2 separate regions of the Homo sapiens genome follow, and region 1 is linked to region 2. Evidence: fine-mapped expression QTL. Tissue or cell type: lung. Region 2 holds a variant in brackets; the other region holds the start of a gene. All regions are shown on one strand. Distances are between the middles of the regions.

Region 1 (8,188 bases), 130 kb after region 2:
ATAGGTATTTCTTCATATATTTGAGAGCAAACATCTTATTCCTAAAGAGTCTTCAAGCAGAGAATCCTGAGTGCTCGTATGATAGAGAAAAAAACTCTACTAATATACAGCAGGGCAGCTATTTTGGAGATAACCTGGCAGTACACTTAGTTAAATGAAGGAGACATTTATATATGTCAAAGACATGCTCACAGAGGTCCAGAAGAGAAATGTCTAATGCTGCATGTGTTGCAAGGAGCTGGAGGCAATCTGGATGCCTAGCAATGTAGGAGTAGAAAGACTGGTAGACGCACACAAAGAATTACATAAGAGTTGGAAGCAAAGGACTAGATGTATACAAAGTAATAGATAACTTCAAAAACAGTGCTGAGTAGGAAAAAAGAGATGAGAACTAAAACAAAGCATATAATTTACATTTCTGTAAAGTTAAAAGATACACATTCTCAAGAATACATGTAAACAAAACATTAAAATGTTTGCATTAAGAAATGGAATGAGCTATAGGAATGAAAAGAATAAATACATTAGAAAAACAGCAGCCTTTCAGGGATCAATGATGATTATGTGTCAAACTCAGGAACACGACTATTGCAATCTTCTACATTTTCAGTCAAACTAGAAAACCACAACAAAAACTACACTAAGCACCATGGAAGTAGAAAAATAATAATATTGTGCTGAGTAAGTATAGCTACAAATAAAATAATATGTAAATAATAAGTTTATTATTAGTATACACCAAGCATCTATGAGCTTACATACATTGATTAATCCTCCCGATAATTCCACGGAATAAATACTATTATCATTTTATAGGAAATCACGGAATAAAAACATTAAGGAATTTAGTAAGGCTGGAATTCAAAACCCAAACTGTGTGCATCTAGAACTGTAATTTGGATTTGTTACACTAGAGAGCCTGTCATGAATCAACCAACATTTCTATAATATAAAGCTTACACCTAAAAAGAAGCAAAGCCATTGACAACCAAGGACAATGCAAGTTGAAAACAAATAATACAAGAGGTGGCTGAACAAAATGTAAGTCTGGATATGGTATACAGGTGGCACTTAAAAAAATACTTGTTGACTGAGTGGGTGAATTAATGAATGGGAGATAACCTCAGGTTTCTTCAATGAGTTGCACTAAGGTCTGGAGAGGTGAAGGTAGATGGAGTTCATGTGAAATGCAAAAAGAGTAAGGGAATAGGGATGGGAAACCACTGGATGCATGGATAAACTACCAAGTGACCTAGACTAGGTAGGTGACTGTATAGGGTACCTAAAAGAAAGTGTTTGGAGCTTCACTTGTGTAGAGTATAGGCTTTAGACTTCCTAGGTTTGAATCCTATCTGGCTCTATCACTTTCATCTGAATGGCCTTGGGTATGCTATTAACCACCTAGTGGCTTTGTTTAATCAGAGCAAAATGGGGTTCAGTCATTCATTTAAGAAATAGCTGGGCACTTAATTTGTGTCAGGCACCGTTCTAAGTGCTGGAAATACAACCATGAATACAAAAACATCCCCGTCCTCATGGACCTCATAGTCTATTCACAGACAAATAACAAACAAATTCAGTCCGATGGCCATAAAAGGCACAGAAAATGAAAGGGATGAAACAGATAAGGATGCTATGTTAGTTGAAAACAACAACGGCTAATACGTCTTGTGTGCTTATTTTTTTTTCTCCCCTCAAAATTTGTATATTGAAACCTAATCACCAATGTGAGTAGCAGGAAGTTGGGGCCTTTGGGGTGATTAGGTTATAAGGGTAGAACCCTCACTGTTGGGATTGGTGCCCTTATAAAAGTGATCCCAGAGAGCTAGCTGGGCATGGTGGGGAGCACTTGTAATCCCAGCTACGTGGGAGACTGAGGCAGGAGAATTGCTTGAACCCAAGAGGTGGAGGTTGCAGTGAGCCAAGATTGTGCCACTGAACTCCAGCCTGGGTGACAGAGCAAGACTGTCTCCAACAACAACAACAAAAAACAACAAAATACCTCATATGTTAGATTTTTTAAATTGAGCCTACAAAAGTAATTTATCCATATCTACGTTTAAATCACTCCATATTTCAATACTTAAATTATTATTATTATTTTTTTGAGATAGGGTCTCACTCTGTTACCCAGGCTGGAGTGCAGTGGTACGATCTCAGCTCACTGCAATGTCTGCCCCCGGATTCAAGTGATTCTCCCGCCTCAGCCTCGGAAGTAGCTGGGCCTGCAGGCGCAGCACCACTACGCGGGGCTATTTTATTTTTTTAGTAGCAAGGGTGGTCTCACCATGTTGCTCAGGGTAGTCTCGAACTCCTGAGCTTGGAGCAATCCACTGGCCTCAGCATCCAAAGTGCTGGAATTACAGGTGTGAGCCACCGCACTTGGCCTCCAATTATTATTATTATTATTATTACTAGTTTTTGAGAGTCTTGCTGTGTTGCCCAGGCTGGAGTGCAGTGGCACGATTGTGGCTCACTGCAAACTCTGCCTCCTGGGTTCAAGCAATTCTCCTGCCTCAGCCTCCCGAGCAGCTGGGATTACAGGCACCCACCATCATGGCTGGCTAATTTTTTTTTTTTTTTTTTTTTAAGTAGAGCTGGGGTTTCACAATGTTGGCCAGGTTGGTCTCAAACTCCTGACCTCAGGTGATCCCAACTGACAGATAAAACTGTGTGTATATGTCATGTACAACATAATGTTTTGAAGTATACGTACATTGTGAAATGGTTAACTCTAGCTAATTAAAAAATGTTTTACCTCACATAGTTATTTTAGTAATGAGAACACTTAACATCTGCTGTGTTTTTCAAAAACACAATGTTTTCCAAGATTACAATGTCATTAACTATAGCCACCATGCTGTCCAATAGATCTCTTGAATGTATTCCTCCTATTCAACTGTAATTATGTATCCTTTGACCAACATCTCCCCAACCCTCCTTCACCCCTAACCATGCCAGCCCTTGGTAACCACCATTCTATTCTCTACTTCTATGAACACCAAAATTATTTAAAGGCTGTACTTGTCAAGAAATATAAATGTATCATTTCAAGTTCAGATAATGTGTGTATTTAATTCTTATTTACCTGCCGTTTGAAGACAATAAAGCATATAGAACACAAAATTTAAACCTGATCTTACCTTTGTAAGATAATCCACTTTCAAATTGTCGATCATCATAGTTTTCTGGGATAGCTCAATTTTTAGTAACTGAATATTATGAAGTAGTTCTTTTCGTTCAATTAGCTGCCTGGTGATTCTGACTTTGCCCTCTCGCTCTTCTGATGAGGAAATATCATCCGTAGGAACTGTTGTTTCTAAACTAATATCTTCAGATTCCAGAGAACTAGAGATGTTCACTTTTTTTGACTCCTTTGAAATTTTTCGAGACATTTTTATTATTATGGATCAGTTTTCTTCTCTAATTTGATTTTAATATTCTGTAGGTTAAAAAACATTAATTCAAATGTACTATAAAATTAACTACAGAAATCATGGACTGTATTAAAGAGAGACTAAGGATTCCTTAAATAAATATTAGGCAATTTAGTGCATCCCAAATCTAGAACAGATTATTGCAGTTAAGTTAATGCTCAAATCAAACACATTAATTCCTAATATGAAGTCAGCCTTCGAGAAACTTAAAAAAACAGTTCCTGCGGGGAGGAATCTTACTTGGAGGAAACAAAGAAATGTACAAGATGAAGAAAAAAGCCCATTATAATCAAGAATGGCACCACTAAAACCAACACATGCTCAAAGATAACAGAAATCACGTCTGAGTTGGTCAGGGAAACGTTACACAGAGGTAGCACTTAGAATCTTTAAAGATTTGGACAGGCATGGTAAAAAGGAGAAATCATGCAGTTATTAATGATACGTAAGTGGAAGTAAAAAAACAAAGCCAAGTCTTGGAATAGTTACTCCTTTCACCGCCCCCCCAACACAAACACAAACACACACACACACACACACACACACACACACGCCCTTAACGATCAAGACTGGAAGGCCTTAAATGTCAAAATAGGGTTGGATTTTATTCTACAGGCAATGAGGCATCATTGAAGATGTTTTAAATAGGGAAAACGGGGACAAAAACATTTTTTATAGATAGCAGAATGAAAACAACAGGATATAAGAAAAATTCAAGAAATTCTAAATAGAACTTACTTCTAACTCTCTCATAAGAATGTTAGCAACTACCTTGTTTTAATACCTCATGATATAACAAATTATGCTATTAAATATTTCAGTTTTTCTAAACTGAATGATAAGGAAAGGTGTGTGGAGGGGAAACAGCGAGAACTATACTAAGATCGGCCTCCCTCCTTCTTTTTGAAGGGAAATAGGTAAGAAAAAGTGAATTCAAAGACAAATTCTCTCCTCGATTACAAAGGGCCCGAGACGGGGACTGCCTATACACTCGGCGTGAAAATTAAGCCCCAAACTTGGCAGCTCGGGGGATTCCTTGCCCCACGCGGGAAAGAAAGCGATGATAGTCGCAAGTTACCTCGAAAGTGTCAATTACTCCACACTGAAGCCTTGACCAGCAGCCAGTGCAGACACCGAGGGACCAAAGGCGTCTCCGGTCGGAAGCACAAGGTTGCAGGCCCTCAACAAGGGATTTCAAGGCAGGGGACCGTTAGGACCCGTAACCAAGACAACCATCTCCGCACCCGCAAGGAGGACAGAACCAGCACTCCCACAAGCCGCCGGAAGTCAACTCTCCCGGATGTTCCGAGGAGCGGAAAGCAACACACGTTGTGAGGTGGCGTCCAGAAGGAAGCCCCGCCTAGGCCACGGGCGGAAATGGCTCCTCGCCTTGCTTTGCCGCCCCTCCCCACTCTCGCCCAATCCCCGCGGCCGTCAGAGAGCCAACCAATGTTTATCTCGGCATTTTCCCGCGAGAAGTGTTACTAATATCCGGGAATGGAAAGGGAAGAACCTCCGGGGTTAGGCGTATTCTAGATTGACGCCTTTTGCTGGAAGAGCGCTGCTGGGGTTAGGATTCTGCGCGGCGAGGCAAGATGCTCAAGTCCAAGACGTTCTTAAAAAAGACCCGGGCGGGCGGCGTGATGAAGATCGTGCGCGAGCACTACCTGCGAGACGACATCGGCTGCGGTGCGCCCGGGTGCGCAGCGTGTGGAGGGGCGCACGAGGGGCCGGCCCTGGAGCCGCAGCCCCAGGACCCGGCGAGCAGCGTCTGCCCGCAACCGCACTACTTGCTGCCCGACACTAATGTGTTACTGCACCAGGTGCGTGGGCGGGCGAACCGCGGACAGCGCGGCCCCACGGGGACAAGGGGGTATGACAGGGAAACTGAGGCCCAGGGAGGCGGGTCTTTGGCAGTGTCACATACCTAGCGAAAGGGAAACCCCCTCGGGACCGAAGCTTCCTGTTCCCCAGGCCGAGGTTCTTTTCCTTGTGCTTTAAAAAATTTAGTTCTTGGAGTCGTAGTTCAGACACGTTATTTTTCTAACTCCTGGTGTCTCTTCTGCCTTAGATTGTAAGTGCCTGGAGGCCGGGGACCTGGGCTTCTGTGGCCTCCAGCCTGCGACTCCCAGGCAGCTTGTAAGTGCCTAGGAACAAAAAACTATGTGGGCCAACGTATTCCTTTATTAATACCCTTAATTCTACGAAGTCTTGTGATTGGTCTGTTTAAGTGTGCTTTTTTTAATAGATCTGAAGGGTTTAGTGACTATTGTCTCGTTTTCTATAGCCAAATAGCTTCTTGGCTTAACTTATTCAGTGTTTTTAAAACATAAAGTATTTATGCCCAACATAAAACAGGATTTTATGTTTGACAGAGCTATTTACAAATGAATATAGGAAAAATTAACTTTATCTTTCTTTAAGATTGATGTTCTTGAGGACCCTGCCATCAGGAATGTAATTGTGCTACAAACAGTTCTTCAAGAAGTGAGAAATCGCAGTGCCCCCGTATATAAACGCATCCGAGATGTGACTAATAACCAAGAGAAGCATTTCTATACTTTCACTAATGAGCACCATAGGTAGGAGGAATATTACGTTAAATATCAGAAAACCACAGGATTAGCAAAATTCGGGAGAGGGTTCCTGTGAGTAATTTATGACATTGTCAGAAGATAAGTGATAGATTTCATACCTTATTTAATTCTTACATGGCTGTGCAGAAGATAATGCTAAGTGGATCTCTCTAAGGTCACACAGGCATTGATGGGCTCAAGCCTAAAACCAAGGTCTGCTGACTCCTAGACTACAATAGGTACTTTAATTTCCAAAATGTTTTCATTTTGAATTGGTTTTAGCATGAGTTGGACCATAGAATCTTGGAAGATGAGATTTGCTTAAGTTCCTGGAATACCATATTATGTGAACAACTAACAGAGGGTAATAAAATATATGAGTTTGTGAAGTTTCTATTTTGTTTAAAAATAGAAAGTAGATTTATTCTTAATGGTCTTTTTAAAAGTTTAATACTTTGCAGCTGATTACATTGAGCAAGATTAGGTTAAGGAATAGAATTCTTTTTTTTTTTTTTTTTTTTTTTTTGAGATGGAGTCTCACTCTGTCACCCAGGCTGGAGTGCAGTGGTGTGATCTCTGCTCACTGCAACCTCCACCTCCCAAGTTCAAGCGATTCTTCTGCCTCAGCCTCCTGAGTAGCTGGGATTACAGTCACGCACCACTATGCCAGGCTAATTTTTGTATTTTTAGTAGAGACAGGGTTTCACCATGTTGGTCAGGCTGGTCTCGAATTCCTGACCTCGTGATCCACCTGCCTCAGCCTCTCAAAGTGGTGGGATTACAGGCATGAGCTACCGTGCCTGGCCAGGAATATAATTCTTTGTTGTGCTTTTAGATTCAAGACCTTTGAACTCAGTGTGTGGTCTCAAAAATATGATATTGCCTATTACGTTATATTACATAAATAATCTATGATGAGTATGGTACTTTTATTGGATTAGATCAGGGCTTCTCAATCTTGGCATTATAGATATTTTGAACTGAATAATTTTTTTGTGGTGGAAAGGCTGTTTTATACATTGTAGTATGTTTAACAGTGTTCCTAGCCTATTTGGCAGGATCACCACCCCTTACCCCCCCCACCACCACCACCACCACCACCACTCAGTTGTAATGATACAAAATGCCCTGAGGGGTGAATTCACTCAATTGAGAACCATTGGATTAGAGTGTAGACTTCTGGTAATGAAATTCCATCAGATTATGCACATTTTTAAAAACCTTAATATCTCAACTTTCTTGATTCTTATATCTCAAACTTCAATGTTCTTGTAAAGAATACCAGTAAAGCCCTTGTAGGCTTCTTATTGTTAGTACCTCCTTGAAATCCAGAAATAGCAACATCACTTGTTTTTCAGTGCAGAAAGACCCAAGTTTAAAACCAATTCAAAAATTTATGACTGTGTCTTTCACTGATGAGCTTAAAACATTAGCAGCTGGGCGTGGTGGCTTATGTCTGTAATCCTGGCACTTTGGGAGGTTGAGGTGGGCAGATCACTTGAGGCCAGGAGTTCCAGACCAGCTTAGCCAACCTGGAAAATCCCTGTCTCTTAAAAATACAAAAATTAGCTGGTTATGGTGGTACATGCCTCTAGTCCCAGCTACTTGCGAGGCTGAGTTGGGAGGATCACTTGAACCCGGAGGTAGAGGTTGCAGTAAGCTGAGATCATGCCACTGCACTCCAGCCTGAGCTACAGAGCAAGACTCTGTTTCAAAAAAAAAAAAAAAGCATTAGCAAGTGCATTCAACGATGAGGAATAAAATAATTCTAAAACTATTAATATAAATCAAATTATTAAATTGAATCTATTACCATTAAGTACTGGAAGCTATTGTAGTGAACTTTGCTGTTGTACTTAAACCTGGCTTTGATGAACAGATTTAAAGAAATAGATGAATGTGTTGACATACTTGGGAGTTTAGATAGAAGAAATACGTAATATCTATTAATATACCTGACTTTTCAGTCTCTACATAGCTTCAGCTATTAGTGTTTACCATGGATAATTTATATGCATTATTTATTAATGACTGTAGAATTCTGATTATAAATGATCTAATTATACTATTTGTAGCTTTTAGGAATTGCTATTAACCTACAGTTTGAATGAAATCTGATTATCATACCTGTGAAATTGTATTATAATTTGTCAACAAACTATTATTTAGTGTCTC
Region 2 (8,188 bases):
TTTTACCTATCATTTACTACTGATAAGTCTCTTACCCACAAAACTATGTTCTATTCTTCCTTAGGCAACATTGGACTAAGAAACAGATATGCTGAAAATTACAAAATATCCTAGGTTACCCATTGTGACTTTTAGAGGAAATGGGAATGGGACTGATTTTTTAAAAATACATAATTCTGAAATATCTGAATCCTCACCAGACAGAATTAAACATTCCAGCTACAAATATATACTTTCTATTCAGCTCGCCTTGATCAAAATTTGGCATATATTTAGTTTAACTGGTAAGAGCCATAAGTTCTAACTATCCTTTTCTTGCTTTCTATAAAGTGCTCTATATTCTACATCACTTTATTTTTTTATTCACCACTATATTAATGAGGATACATCATTTTAGATAGCCATATAGATGTTCTATTTTCTGAGTCATTTTCTTAGTGTACAATGTCTCTAAATGTCTAAATCAGTTCACATAAAAAAAAGCAACTCTGAATTCTCAAACGCTCTGATGAAGAAACAATTTTACTAGGTATCCTGCACTGAGTTAGATAGAGAAAGTGAAAAATAAACAAGAATAAGATGTAGTTGGCACGGCGTGGTAGCTCATGCCTGTAATCCCAGCACTTTGGGAGGCCGAGGTGGGTGGATCACTTGAGGTCAGGAGTTTGAGACCAGCCTGGCCAATACAGTGAAACCCTGTCGCTATTAAAAATACAAAAATTAGCCAGGCATGGTGGCACATGCCTGTAATCCCAGCTACTCGGGAGGCTGAGACAGGAGAATTGCTTGAACCTGGGAGGTGGAGGTTGCAGTGAGCTGAGATCGTGCCACTGCCTCTAGCCTGGGTGACACAGTGAGTCTCTGTCTCAAAAAAAAAAAAAAAAGATGTAGTTGCTAGACTGGGCATGGTGGATCTCTCCTGTGTTTCCAGCACTTTGGAAGGCCGAGGCAGGTGGATCACTTGAGGCCAAGGCCAGGAGTTCAAGACCAGCCTGACCAACATGGTGAAACCCCATCTCTACTAAAAATACAAAAATTAGCAGGGTGTGGTGGTGCACGCCTGTAGTCCCAGCTACTTGGGAGACTGAGGCAGGAGAACTGCTTGAACCTGGAAGGTGGAGGTTGCAGTGAGCTGAGACTGTGCCATTGCACTCCAGGCCTGGGTGACAGAATGAGACTCCATCTCAAAAAAAAAAAAAAAAAAAAATAGGTAGTTGCTGACCTCGAAGAACTTTCCATCTAGATGGGTAAATTACACAGGAAATGATAGCTAATGAGATAAGAGAAATGCTCTGCTGTGTGGTACAGAGAAAACAGTTGCTTTATAGGCAGAGAAATAGGTATATCCACTGCACTTTGGGTAGAGAGGCAAATAAGGCTGGAGAGATAGAGCTACATTATAGAGGCGCGTGGAAGTCTGAAAGAAACATTTAGATTTGATGGATTTGATGTGGTAGTGAATGGGGCCGTGAGATGTTTTTGCAAAGCAGGATAAATTTTCGTGCAAGAGAGGAGTTAGGAATAAAAATCAGGCAGGTCAACTGGAAACCTGATTAATGTAGGTATAATTTTCTGTTAGCATACAGTTGTCTGTTGGTATCCACGGGATGCATGGTTCCAGTGTACATTCTCCACCTCCTGTGGATACCAAAATCCATGAGTGCTCAAGTCCCTTACATACAATTGGTATAATATTTGCATACAACCTACGCATATCCTCCCATATACTTTAAATCATCTCTAGATTACTTATAATACCTAACAAAATGTAAATGCTATGTGAATAACTGTATTAAGGAATAATGACAAGAAAAAAAGTCGGCACATACTCAGCATAGATGCAATCATCCATTCTTTTCGCGAATATTTTTGATAAGCGGTTGGTTGAATTCACACATGTGAAACCCATGGATATAGAGGGCTGACTGTACTTTTAAACATTATCTCACAAGATAACTAGTGGGTCTTCTAAATATTCTCTTGGTTTTGTAAAGCCTTTCATAGTTTCAATTACAATATATGCATTAATTCCAAATCACTCTCCCTAACATGTATGTGAAGGAATGTAGGCAGTTGAATAAAAATGAGAGAAAGAAAAAAAAAAAGCACAATGAATTTTAATCTGAATATTCTTGATACAAAGCATTTGTAGCTCATCTGAAATTAATGTGAAAATAAAAACAAGGTCCTTATCATCGAATCTAATTCTACATAAATTCTTATGCACACTTCTACAAACCACTAAATTTATTTAAATATATATGAAATACATGATTATTAGTGTTTTATTTTGTGAGAAATTTAATATTTATGCAGAGTAAGAATAAAGGACTTTGTCACTGAACTCAGCACATTATCAGAAAGCACAAATGTAATTACATTCATCTTGAGTAGATAAATAAAATAAATATATATTGATTTTACCTTTGCTTTAGTCGTCTTTTGGCTGTTGTGGGAACATTAGCACCATAGCCGTAGGAAAAAAGAACCCTTTCAGCCTCATCTTCATTTTCAACTGGAAAATATTAAAGTGTATAATGTGAAATAACTTTATTTTTCCTTTAAAAAAGATGGCAGAAGTGAAAATAAAGGAGGTTATAACAAATTAGGGAGGATAAAAACATTAGAAAGGGCTAATATGTAATCTTAAACAGCCCATTTGTAAGTAGAAACATATTTCTTAAAGTATATCCTTGCTTGAATTTGCTCCATTTATTTTTGAAATGTATAAGGGATTGCATCATATCATGTTAGGTTTTCTTGTTAAAAAGTATAATAATACATGTATTATTCTGAAGGACTCAAAGGCTTTTTGCATGAAATATGCTATGTAATATAACAAATAATGATAACATATCAAAGTCATCAATTCTGTTCTTGATAAATGATTTTTAAATTAGGACAAATATTATTTTATCAGAACAACTTTATTTTAATTTGCAACAATAAAATTATGTACTTATGTAGGTTACTCTATTAAAAACTGTGCAGCTCTAAGCATGTATTGATGGCCTTACTTTTTTTAAATGTAAAAAAATTATGTGAAAATAATTTACTTTTAAATTCTGCTATTGTCACACTACTTCCCAAAAGGAATTTTAACTAACAGGTTAACATCTTCTGGGTAAAAAACTTGAAATGCAATGACATTTTACTGCAAGTTGGGATTAAAAAAATATATATATATATATATTTTTTGAGATGGAGTTTCGCTCTTGTTGCCCAGGCTGGAGTGTAATGGCGTGATCTCTGCTCACAGCGACCTCTGCCTCCCAGGTTCAAGCGATTCTCCTGCCTCAGCCTCCCCAGTAGCTGGGATTGCAGGTGCCCACCACCAAGCCCGGCTAATTTTTTTTGTATTTTTAGTAGAGACAGGGTTTCGCCATGTTGGCCAGGCTGGTCTCAAACTCCCAACCTCAGGTGATCTGCCTGCCTCAGCCTCCCAAAGTGCTGGGATTACACGTGTGAGCCACCGCACCTGGCCAAAAAACATTTCATCATCAAAAAAAACCCCCAAAACACCAAAAAAAGTATTTCATCAAAGGCTATAGTTTTAATAGCTCAAGTAAAAGCAGTCATTGACATATAAAAACTTTCATAATATTATTTATCACCAGCCATTATTTTAATGTTAAAAAGATATTCACTTTCAGGAATATTTCAGAATTAAAACAAAGCCACATATTTTACAACCATCATGATGTTTCATCTTCTGCATGCCTATCAATGTAATAGGGATACATTTGTTGATTGGCCCTTCTGTAGTAAAGATTTTAGAAACATTTATTAACTGTTTTCTTTTAATTTTGTCCCTATCTTTCATGGTGAATCAGGATTAGCTTTCTGAGGAAGAATTATTAGTTGAGAGAGACACATGGAAGAGATGATACATGCCATTACCAATACTATGATCAGCTAGCAGGTAAGTCCAGATCCAAGATGAGTTCTCCAAATAAGCTCTACTGGAACTAGAGCTAACATTTAGATATGTAACTGACTCTTGTTTCTCCTTAATAGTTCTAAATTCAGAGGAGAGAGGGGTAAATTTAGTTCACATCTCAAAAACCCAT[A/G]AGTTAGATATTAATGGACATGCTAAATGTGAGTTTAATACTTAATGGATTAATAAATCATGGGATAACTATTCTAGCAGGGATTAATTACAGAAACAATGTATTATACAACTTGGTCAATGCTACTAAAGGGATCTGAACAATGCTATTAAAGAGATCTGAACAATGTGTCTTAGAAGCAGAGCGCAGGGCAACTGCATCTGAGTGCCACTATTTCCCATGCTACAAGGTATAGGGTAGATATGGGGAGACTGAGATTCAGTGAAGGAATAGGAGAGAAGTCCATGTGCAGAAGCATAGACTTGTAAGGTATGTGAAGTTTTAATCCACAGGATTAAGTCCCTTATATAAAATGGTATATATATATATATCTGCATATAACATATCTACACCTTCACATACACTTTAAACCATGTCTGCATCACTTACAATACCTAACACAATGTACATGCTATATATAATAGTTGTTATATTGTATTTTTAAAAATGTATTATTTTTTATTATTGTCTTTTCCCCAATATTTTCAATCCACAGGTGATTAAATCTGAGATGCAGTATCTGCTAATAGAGAGAGCAACTGTACAGAAAAATTAGGAAGTTTCAGGGAAGAAAGAGGAAATGCAAATAATGTTAAATTTTCAGCTGTGCATGGTGGCTTATGCCTATAATCCCAGCGTTTTGGGAGGCCCAGGCAGGGGGATCCCTTGAGGCCAGGAGTTTGAGATCACTCTAGGCAACATAGTGAGACCGTGTCTCTACAAAAAATAATTAGTTGGGCATGATGGCATGTGTCTGTAGTCTCAGCTACTTGGGAGGATGAGGCAGGGGGAATCACTTGAGCCCAGGAGTTTGAGACTGCAGTGAGCTATGATTGTACCACTGCACTCCAGCCTGGGCAACACAGTGAGACCCTGTGTCTAACTATAGAAATTACTAGCCTATTGATAGTAACTGAAGTTGCGGAAAGGGAAAAGATTATCCAGAAGTTAAGTGATGGAAAATAAACAAAGGCAGGTGATTCAAGAAGCAAAGAGAAGGGAGTTCTGAGAAATTCGACAAATGCCTAGTGAAGGTTATAAGTATGATGAGGATGTGTGGCAGGTAACTGAATTTAACAACTAGAAATCTAGGTTGTTTTTTTTTTCTAATATGAGTTTATTTAGCTTTTAGACAATACTTATACTTTTAACAACTTGATGAAATCTTTGAAAACTAAACTCAAATATCCAAATAATACTTATTTGATTACAGAAAGCAATACAAGTATAAATAAGATACTTTAATTTGCTATGGTTACACCTTAATAAATGAAGGCTAATCACCTTCATGTCGGCTAAAATTACCCGAATTAAATGGCAAGCCTTTGAAAATTGTATACAATGTAGTACTAAAAATAGTCTGTTGAAAAAAGTCAGCCGAAATTACCTGAATTAAATGGCAAGCCTTTGAAAATTGTACACAATGTAGTACTAAAAAAAGTCTGTGCTCACTTCTTTGAAATTTTAGTTAATCGATAAGTATTCATTAAATAAGGACAAGGTATATTTTAATTTCCAATGTGAACTGATAGAGAACCTAGTTACTGATCTTCTAGTACAGGTAAATCTATTTTATTTGAAGTTGGTTTAGATAGTATCATAACAAAAATTAATTTCTATTTTTCTGCAGCTTTTAAGAAAATATTTATACATGTGGACACACTGAAAAAATGTACAGTATACATCCATATACTCAACATCTGCAATTTTTTTTTTTTTTGAGACAGAGTCTCATTCTGTCACCCAGACTGGAGTGCAGTGGCGTGAACACAGTCACTGCAGCCTTGACGTTCAGGGCTCAGGCGATCATCCCACCTCACCCTCCCATGTAGCTGGCACCACCATGCCTGGTTCATTTTTTATTTTTTTGTAGAGATGGTCTTGCCAGGTTGCCCCGGCTGGCCTTGAACTTCTGGGCTCAAGCAATCGTCCTGCCTTGGTCTCCCAAAATGCTGGGGTTAAAGGCATGAGCCACTGTGCCTGGCTCCAACATCTGGATTCTAAATCAAACATACTATGTGTTTATTATACATATATCCACCCGTTTCCATGAATGTTTTTTTGATGCATTTCAAAGAAAGTTGTGGACATTTGCACACTTCACTCCTCAACAGTTTAACATGCAAATCATCAATTATAATTCAATATGTATTTACAGTTATTTTCTAAAAAATAAGATTTGTAACTTTCACCATGTATAAATTTTATTTTTATTTTTTAAGTCTACCATTCAACGAGTTTTGAAATGTAAAAGTTTTGAAATGTACAGACATGTGTTTAACACAAACCCTATCAAGATATATAGAACATCTGAATACCCTGGAAAGTTCCATGTCACTTTTCTCAGTTAATTTTTGGTGACAATCATCTTTAGAGACAACTACAGTTCTGATTTTTGTCTTTTTAAAAATAAAAAAAAAAATTTTTACCCCCACCCCTTGATTTTTTTCATCATAGATTACTTCTGTCTCTTCTAGAACTTTATATAATCATATAGTATAATCATACTATATACTATAATCATACAGTATAATCATACTATATACTATAATCATATAGTATAATCATACCATATACTATAATCATATAGTATAATCATACCACATACTATAATCATACAGTATAATCATACTATATTATATAAAGTACACTTTATGTTTTTCAGATTCATCCATGTTGTTAAGTAAGTCAATTGTTTCCTTCCAGTGAGGAGAAGTATTCTACTACATGAATGTATAATGGTTTGATTAACCATTTTCCTTTGAGATACACACCTGGGCTGTTGTCAGTTTTTGACTATTATGAATACATTTCCTATGAACATTCTAGAGGAAATCTTTTAAGGTGCATATGCTTTCTTCTCTCTTGGGTAAGTAACGGAAATGCTGGATCACTGATTAGGTTGTTTAATTATTTTGTAAGAAACTGCCAGTTGCTCCACTTCTCACCAACATTTGGTATAGTCAGTCTTTCTAATTTCAGCCATTCTTGTGGGTATACAGTGGTATCTCACTGGGCTTTTAATCTGCTTTTCCCTCATGACTAGTAATGTTGAATACTTTTATTATGCTTACTTGTCATTCACATGTCTTCCTTTGTGAAGTGTTTAAACCTTTTGCCCATGTTTTAAACAGGACTATTTTTTTTTTAATCACTGAGTTACATGAATTTTTAAATATATATTCTGGTACATTAATTTCCTACTGCTAACGTTAACAGATTGCCAGACTTTATGGTTTAAACAATACAAATTTATTATTTTATAGCTCTACAGGTAGTAAGTCCAAAAATCAGCCTCACTGACCTGAAGTCAATGCTTTGTAGGGCTGGTTCTGTGTGAAGGCTCTATGGTGAAATCTGTTTCCTTGCCTTTTCCAGCTTTTTCAGAGGTTCCAAAGATGAGGACATGGACATCTTTCTTTTCTTTTCTCTTTTCTTTCCTTCCTTCCTTTTCCTTTCTCTTTCCTTCCTTCCTTCCTTCTTCCCTTCCTTTCTTTCCTTCTCTCTTTCTCTTTTTTTCTAGAGATGGGGTCTCACCATGTCAGGCTAATCTTGAACTCCTGAGCTCAAGTGATCCACCTGCCTCAGCCTCCCAAAGTGTTGGAATTACAGGCATGAGTCACTATGCCCAACAGGACATGGACATCTCTAGAAGGATGTTTTTCAGCCCACCACATTTGGGTATCATTTTCTTTTGTTTAATCTATGTTTTGTGAATATTTTCTCCTCAATATTTTCTTATTTTGGGTATCATTCTTTTGTCAGATATAAAATTGTGGTTATTTTCTTTGAGTCTGTGGCTTGGCTATTCATTTCTTAATGGTGTCTTTTGAAGAACAGAAGTTTTAAATTTTGATGACATCTACTTTATCAGTTTTTCTTTTATGATAATTACATTCAAGGGCCATGTCAAAAAAAGTCTTAATGTACTCCACGTTGTAAAGATAACTCACCTATGTTTTCTGTTACATATTTATAGTTTTAGCTATTCCATTTAGGTATCGTCTCAGATTAATATTGGTGTATGGAAGTTTACTTCCATAAAGATGTCCAATTTTTTTTTAGCACCATTTATTGAA

The links. PIP is the estimated chance that this variant, and not a neighbour inherited with it, causes the effect.
Region 1: it holds the start of PIBF1, and the variant in region 2 is fine-mapped to the expression of PIBF1 in lung (TOPMed, PIP 0.94).

Annotation. Positions count from the first base shown.
Region 1 is chr13:72,778,677-72,786,864 of GRCh38, reverse strand. PIBF1 (progesterone immunomodulatory binding factor 1) reads right to left here and starts at 4,732. Exons shown (of 18, transcript NM_006346.4): 1 at 4,516-4,732; 2 at 3,144-3,442. The coding sequence starts at 3,395. DIS3 (DIS3 exosome endoribonuclease and 3''-5'' exoribonuclease) reads left to right here and starts at 4,965. Exons shown (of 21, transcript NM_014953.5): 1 at 4,965-5,260; 2 at 5,862-6,019. The coding sequence starts at 5,033. RefSeq lists enhancers at 4,832-4,941, 4,859-5,773 and a silencer at 5,222-5,271.
Region 2 is chr13:72,911,403-72,919,590 of GRCh38, reverse strand. It overlaps PIBF1 (progesterone immunomodulatory binding factor 1), which reads right to left. Exons shown (of 18, transcript NM_006346.4): 13 at 2,425-2,515. Among named protein-coding and RNA genes, the nearest start is that of PIBF1, 130 kb to the right of the region's middle. The variant A/G (reference allele first, on the strand shown) is at 4,071.